Homo sapiens: one gene and its partner. The protein of the gene in region 1 purifies or fractionates together with the protein of each later gene. This does not show direct contact. Each region holds a gene or a part of one and is shown on either strand. Other genes may lie near its edges.

Region 1 (4,181 bases):
TTTTTTTTTTTTTTTTTTTCTGAGACAGAATTTTGCTTTTGTTGCCCGGGCTAGAGTGCAATGGCCCGATCTTGGCTCACCGCAACCTCCACCTCCTGAGTTCAAGCAATTCTTTTCCCTCAGCCTCCCGAATAGATGGGATTACAGGCATGAGCCACCATGCCTAGTTTTGTATTTTTAGTAAAGATGGGGTTCCTTCCATGTTGGTCAGGCTGGTCTCAAACTCCCAACCTCAGGTGATCCGCCCGCCTCGGCCTCCCACAGTGCTGGGATTACAGGCGTGAGCCACCGTGCCCGGCCAGAGGTGGGGTTTTGCCATGTTGGCCAGGCTGGTCTCGAACTCCTGACCTCAGATGATCCACCTGCTACGACCTCCCAAAGTGATGGGATTACAGGTGTGAGCCACCATGCCCGGCCTCTTTATGAAACTTAAAGCCATCTTTCGTTATTGTTTCCTTGTCTTGGGCAGGTGGAAGAATCCCCCACCCCTTTTTTAAGGGATGAAGGGAGTTTCAGCTAGTGTCACAGAGTTGCCACTATATTAAATCTCTGCTGCTGAGTACAGATGATAAGGATTGTATTCAAAGTTGCCTGATAGGAGATTGGCAGGGGCAGGGTGAGGGTAGGTATTGACCAGCCCTGGGAATCTCTCTTACTGACAGGCAGGACCTGGGATCACAGGCATCAAGTACACATCTGGTCTGTCCATCTTTCCTCCCTCTATGGGTAACTGAATGTGAAAGGAAAACAAACCAGCGTTTACCCTAGGGAAGCCTTGACGGGTATTTGTGGGTATGTTACTGAGTCTTGTGCTAAAATTAATGACCTTGGGGAATGCGAAAGAAGCAGGCTTAGGATAAAAGAAAGTTCCTGAAAGAGGTGTTGCTTTGGGTAGGATTCCAAGGGACTCAAGACAAAACCCTCAGCTGGGAACGTTGGGGACTAGTTTTTGCCTCTTACAGATATGTGTTGAGACGGATTCTCCGCCGAGCTGTCCGATACGCCCATGAAAAGCTCAATGCCAGCAGGGGCTTCTTTGCTACGTTAGTGGATGTTGTCGTCCAGTCCCTGGTAGGTTTATTTCTCTGCTTACCCTTCTGTGCTAAAGCAGTCCGTTAAGAGGGATGGAGTGGGAGAGGGCATACTGTTAAGCAGCTTTTTGTTGCTGTTTTTTGAGACGGAGTCTCACTCTGTCACCCACGCTGGAGTGCAATAGAGTGATCTTGGCTCACTGCAACCTCTGTCTCCTGGGTTCAAGCGATTCTCCTGTCTCAGCCTTCCGAATAGCTGGGATTACAGGTGCACACCGCCAAGCCTGGCTAATCTTTTCTGTTTTAGTAGAGACAGGGTTTCACCGTGTTGCCCAGGCTGGTCTTGAACTCCTGAGCTCAGGCAATCCACCTGCCTCGGCTTCCCAAAGTGGTAGGATTACAGGCGTGAGCCACTGCACCCAGCTAAGGAGCTTTTTTAAGACGGGGCAGGGAACAGTCTCTGGCTTCATCCAGCCCCTCATCTTGCTTCCCCTTTGTCAGGGAGATGCATTTCCTGAGCTGAAGAAGGACCCAGACATGGTGAAGGACATCATTAATGAAGAAGAGGTGCAGTTTCTCAAGACTCTCAGCAGAGGGCGTCGCATCCTGGACAGGAAAATTCAGAGCCTGGGAGACAGCAAGACCATTCCCGGTAGGTACCAGTTTTTGCCCTTCTCCATCCTGGCCGTTTGATCTTTCTGGGAAAGACAAGCCCTTTCTGACAGACTGACTGTGGGCTCTCATGTCTCTGAGGCTGAACATAGCTTGATTGAATTGCTTTTGGTGCAAACTGGAATTTATAGTAAAATGGTAAAAGTAATGCATCATTGTGGCCAAAGTATTCAAACAATACAGAATACAAAAGTGTTCAGAAAATGAAAATCCTCTTTTCCACACTCATTTCTCAGAGGGAACAACTCTTAATGGTTTGGTGTAGAACTCTTCAGGATTCTTCTCTGTTTGCATGCAAATACATGTAGATATTTGTGTGTGTGTATTTTTCAAGCAAAAGTGGGAATATTTGGTATGTACTGTTTTGCAATTTGGGGAAAATTAATTCCAAAGATTTTCTCCCCAGTTTCCAAAGATTCTTTATTGAAGTATAATGAACAAGGGAAAAGCTTGATGAATTTTCACAAATTGAACACACATTCAGATCAAGAAATAGATTTGTCAGCTGGGTGTGGTGGCTCACACCTGTAATCCTAGCACTTTGGGATGCCGAGGCGGGCGGATCACGAGGTCATGAGTTCAAGACCAGCCTGCCCAACATGGCAAAACCCCGTCTCTACTAAAAATACAAAAAATTAGCTGGGTGTGGTGGCATGCGCCTGTAATCCCAGCTACTTGGGAGGCTGAGACAGGAGAATTGCTTGAACCGGGGAGGCGGAGGTTGCATTGAGCCAAAATCATGCCACTGCACTCCAGCCTGGGCAACAAGAGCGAAACACCATCTCAAAAAGAAAAAGAAAAAGAAATAGATGTGTAAGGCTGGGCACAGTGGCTCACACCTTTAATCCCATCACTTTGGGAGGCTGAGGCAGGCAGATCACCTGAGGTCAGGAATTTGAGACCAGCCTGGCCAACATGGTAAAACCCCATCTCTACTAAAAATGCAAAAATTAGCCATGCATGATGGCGGGCACCCATAATCCCAGCTACTCGGGAGACTGAAGCAGGAGAATCGCTTGAATCCTGGAGCTGGAGAGTGCAATGAGCCGAGATCACACCAGTACACTCCAGCCTGGGCAACAGAGTGAGACTCTCAAAAAAAAAGAAATAGAAAATTGTCCAGGTGAGGTTGTTTTTGTTTTTGAGATGGAGTCTCACTCTGTTGCCCAGGCTGGAGTGCAGTGGTGTGATCTCAGCTCACTGCAAGCTCCGCCTCCCAGGGTCATGCCATTCTCCTGCCTCAGCCTCTCTAGTAGCTGGGACTACAGGTGTCCGCCACCGCGCCTGGCAATTTTTTTATTTATTTTTTTTTATTTTTTATTTTTGAGACAGAGTCTTGCTCTGTCGCCCAGGCTGGAGTGCAGTGGCGCTATCTCGGCTCACTGCAAGCTCCACCTCCCGGGTTCACGCCATTCTCCTGCCTCAGCCTCCCGAGTAGCTGGGACTACAGGCGCCCGCCACCATGCCCGGCTAATTTTTTTGTATTTTTAGTAGAGACAGGGTTTCACCGTATTGGCCAAGATGGTCTCGATCTCCTGACCTCCTGATCCGCCCGCCTCGGCCTCCCAAAGTGCTGGGATTACAGGCGTGAGCCACAGCGCCTGGCCAAATTTTTTGTATTTTTCCTAGAGACGGGGTTTCACCATGTTAGTCAGGATGGTCTCAATCTCCTGACCTCATGATCCGCCCGCCTCGGCCTCTCAAAGTGCTGGGATTACAGGCGCGAGCCACGGTGCCCAGCCCAGGTGAGGTTTAAAAAACAAAACAAAACAAAACAGAATTGTATCAGGACATCCATTGTGCTTCCCCCAGGTTAACTGAAAAAGATGTGCTGGATTTTCTGATGGGCACACAGGGCCGATACTGATAGCCTTGTGTCTTTAATTCCTTCTGCCAGTCCCAGCATCCTTTTGGAGGGCTTGGCATGGAAAAGGGGCTGTCTGTTTTTTTTGACACACCTCCTTTGTGCTGTGTAGGAGACACTGCTTGGCTCCTCTATGACACCTATGGGTTTCCAGTGGATCTGACTGGACTGATTGCTGAAGAGAAGGGCCTGGTGGTAGACATGGATGGCTTTGAAGAGGAGAGGAAACTGGCCCAGGTAAAGAACTTGGAGAGTGAACAGGAAACCCAACACCTTCCAACCCAGCACCACTTGGCTGCAGACTGAGCATGAGTTTCCTTCCATTAAAGTCTTTGAAGTGCTTTTTCCCCTAGATCAGTGGTTCTCAAGTGGGGGCGAGTCTGCCTTCCAGGGAGTAATTGGCGATAATGTCTGAAGACATTTTTGATTTTCACAACTAGGGGCAGATCCTGCTGTCACGTACTTGGTAGAGGCCAGGGTGCCCCTCAGCATCCCACACTGCAAGAGAAGTTTCCACAACAGAGAATGATCTGGCCCCAAATGTCAGTAGTGCCAGGATTGAAAAACCCTGTTCTGGCAGTTTATGCTGGGCATAGTTTAGCAAGTTCCAGTCC
Region 2 (3,500 bases), on another chromosome or scaffold:
CTTTAAAAAGTGTTTGTAGTGGGGTGCTACTGGCAACAATAGTAACATTTAATAGTTACTTTCGAGGCCAGCATGGTGGCTCACGCCTGTAATCCCAGCACTTTGGGAGGCCGAGGCAGGCAGATCACGAGGTCAGGAGTTCGAGACCAATCTGGCCAACATAGTGAAACCCTGTCTCTACTAAAAATACAAAAAATTAGCCAGATGTGGTGGTGTGCGCCTATAATCCCAGCTACTTGGGAGGCTGAGGCAGGAGAATCGTGTGAACCCGGGAGGCAGAGGTTGCAGTGAGCCGAGATCACACCATTGTACTCTAGCCTAGCCCAGGTGACAGTTCAAGACCCCACCTCAAAAAAAAAAAAAAAAAAAAAAATTCCTTTTGAAAAACCTACTCACAAGAATTTTCTGAAAATGAGACCTTTAATGAAAACATACCTATGAATACTGATTTTAGCTGTTTAACTTACCTTACTCAGAGGGGCTTTGATTTTTTTCAAGCACAAAGCAAGAAGTTCCCTGGATTCTAAAGCACACTGTATCCAAGTTCCTGGTGGTTGAAAATACCTAAAAGAGAAGATAACATACTGAAATCCAACATCTGTCAGGAAACACAGAAATTTCCATCTGAATACACAGATATAACCCAAATTATTAACCAGGCATAATAAAACCCAAGGATGATATGAAGCACTTAACTCAAACATATTTTAATGGTTCCAAAACTTTCAACTAGACTAGCAGCTTTAATTAAAAAGGTAAAATTCTGACTGAGAAAGTCAATCTGAAATAACCTACTAAAGTGATCTTATTACTTTAATCACCAAATCACCACTAAAATGTCCAAGAGTCTCTTAAAGCTATGCTCTGAAAAACAGGTGAGAATCATCTCAAAATGGCATTAAAATGGTTTATTATGTACTTCTAAAATGCCTGAGAACTGCTTATTTTTCACAAAAAAAAGGTACATTAGTACCTCACAACACTATAAATCAGCAATAGTTCAGTCTATTCATCTACATTTCAAGTCCTTTTCAAATTGTAAATTGTAAAACAACATTTAAAATCTTGGGTAAAACCAGACTAAAACAAAACTTAAATCTCTTACATATGTGCTTTAAGGTTTTTAGTCCTGCCTACCCAGGACTTAGCACTATGCCACATACATCTTATAGTAGGTGTTCAATAAATGCTTGCTAAATATAAAATACTTCCAAACATGTTATGTGAATGTCTTTTTGCCATACTTGTTACATAACAGAAAGTTTTGACTTTCACTTTTCAAGGTTCAATCAAAAACATTACACAGGTCTCCCTTTGTTTATAAGTACATATTTATTTCGTATTTTTTTTTCCTTTTTTCTTTTGAGACAGAGTCTCGCTCCATCCCCCAGGATGGAGTGCAGTGTATGATCTCGGCTCACTGCAACCTCTGCCTCTCGGGTTCAAGCGATTCTCCTGCCTCTCGAGTAGCTAGGATTACATGCGTGCCCCACCACGCCTGGCTAATTTTTGTATTTTTAGTAGAGACAGGGTTTCACCATGTTGGCCAGTCTGGTCTCGAACTCCTGACCTCAGGTGATCCACCCGCCTCAGCCTCCTCAAGTGCTTGGATTACAGGCGTGAGCCACCAAGCCTGGCCTATGAGTAAACGTTTAGAGTTAGAAAGGGCTTCACATATCACCTAATAAAACCCTTCATTCTGATGAGGAAATTGAGGCCCAGAGATGATAAACAGCTAAGAGTTTCAAACAGCTAGTTTGTGAGGAAGCCAAGACAAACTAAGTCTGTTTAGTTCTTTATCAGTACTTTTCTAACTCCACCAGGCTTTTAATAGCAAATATTTATAAAAGATTAAGCCTCACACTTGCTAAGCTTATACACTGTAAACTCCCTGAAACAGTACACAGTTTCATGTGTTTGTGTATATATATGTATATATACACACACACACATATATATTTTTACATATATACACACACACACACATATATATACATGTATGTAAATATTTTGGGGAAGAGATACAGTTTTCAAATTCTCAAAGGAGTCCATGAACCACCCCTCTAGAGATACACACTCAAAAAGTTAGCGTCTTAATCCATTTTGGAAATAACAGGCATACACTTTTACACTCATTAGGCAGTTTTGTGTTACTCAATGGCCTAATAGATGTAAGTTGTTTATGCTGACAAAGAAAATCAAGAGGAATGAAACATTAACATTCAGAAGAAGTCTTCTTCCTTCAAATCCAATCTTTATTTCAGACCATTCCAGATATAATTTATTGAGCTTCTTTTCCATCAACAATAGTTATTTTAATTACACGTGAATGTTATGAGTTTTTAAAACATATTACTAAATTACTCCAAACATAAGCTTTTTATCATACATGGCTTCTAATAACTAAAGAAAAAAAAACCTCATAATAACAATATGTCCTCAATAATCTGCTCTCACCCTTACAAACATCAACTCCTATTAACTATATACATCAAATCTATTAGATCCTTTAACAGAAGAACAGATTCAAATACATTTACACTATCTTTACCAGATTAGAAGGACACACTAGAAAAGTACACTATAAAATTGCAAATTCTAAAATCTTTGGCGACACCAACAGAAAATTTAAACCTTAATTGCATGCACTTTACTCCATATACCTTCGTGTAATCTCAGCATATCTCGGTGGTTCTCTAAATGTAAATTCCAACTTTAAAAAGAGCAAAATTGTACCGCACTGTACCTTTGACATTGTTTGCAGAACGAAATCGAGACTTGTTTCGGAATACCTTGGCTGATGTCCACTTTACTTCGCAAACAGGCCACACAAATATTGGCAGGATTTGGACTTATCGGAACACCACACTCACAGCACAAGCTTTAATAAATAAAGGATAAATTTTTCACATTAGATTTTTAAAATACACTAAATTTTTTTTTAGATGCCAAACAAACAAAAGCCTTCAAGTTAGGCCACAGCATCTTTGCCCTTTTCAAAAAAATAACAGAAACAAAGCAACCTGGGCCAGCCAGTGGCTCACACCTGTAATTCCAGCACTTTGGGAGGCTGAGGCGGGTAGATCACCTGAGATAAGGAGTTCAAGACCAGCCTCGCCAACATGGTGAAACCCCATCTCTACTAAAAATACAAAAATTAGCCAGGCATGGTGGCGCACGCCTGTAATCCCAGCTACTTGGGAGGCTGAGGCATGCATATCAAACCCAGGAGGTGGAAGTTGCAGTGAGCCAGATCACGCCACTGCACTCCAGCCTGGGTGACAGACCAAGACAATGTCTCAAAAAAAAGAAACAAAAAAAAGAAACAAAGCAATCTTCAAAGATGCAGTAGATAAAGAATAACCCTGTAATACAGGGGCAAAAACACCAAAAATGGCTATAATTCTAAAAATCCTCAATATAAGGCCGATGTCCTAAAGGTTCTAGAAGGTCAGTACTGTCCAACAGAATTTCATGCCACGACAGAAATGTTCTATTCT

The links. The genes of interacting proteins can lie anywhere in the genome.
Region 2: the proteins of AARS1 (region 1) and NMD3 fractionate together in Homo sapiens (co-fractionation; one large-scale study listed by BioGRID). This does not show direct contact.

What each region holds. Positions count from the first base shown.
Region 1 is NC_000016.10:70,265,161-70,269,341, reverse strand, and holds part of AARS1 (alanine--tRNA ligase, cytoplasmic), read left to right. Parts: intron 1-962; coding exon 963-1,071; intron 1,072-1,532; coding exon 1,533-1,683; intron 1,684-3,679; coding exon 3,680-3,804; intron 3,805-4,181. UniProt on the Homo sapiens protein: Catalyzes the attachment of alanine to tRNA(Ala) in a two-step reaction: alanine is first activated by ATP to form Ala-AMP and then transferred to the acceptor end of tRNA(Ala). Also edits incorrectly charged tRNA(Ala) via its editing domain.
Region 2 is NC_000003.12:161,224,311-161,227,810, reverse strand, and holds part of NMD3 (60S ribosomal export protein NMD3), read right to left. Parts: intron 2,882-3,500; coding exon 2,747-2,881; intron 565-2,746; coding exon 468-564; intron 1-467. UniProt on the Homo sapiens protein: Acts as an adapter for the XPO1/CRM1-mediated export of the 60S ribosomal subunit.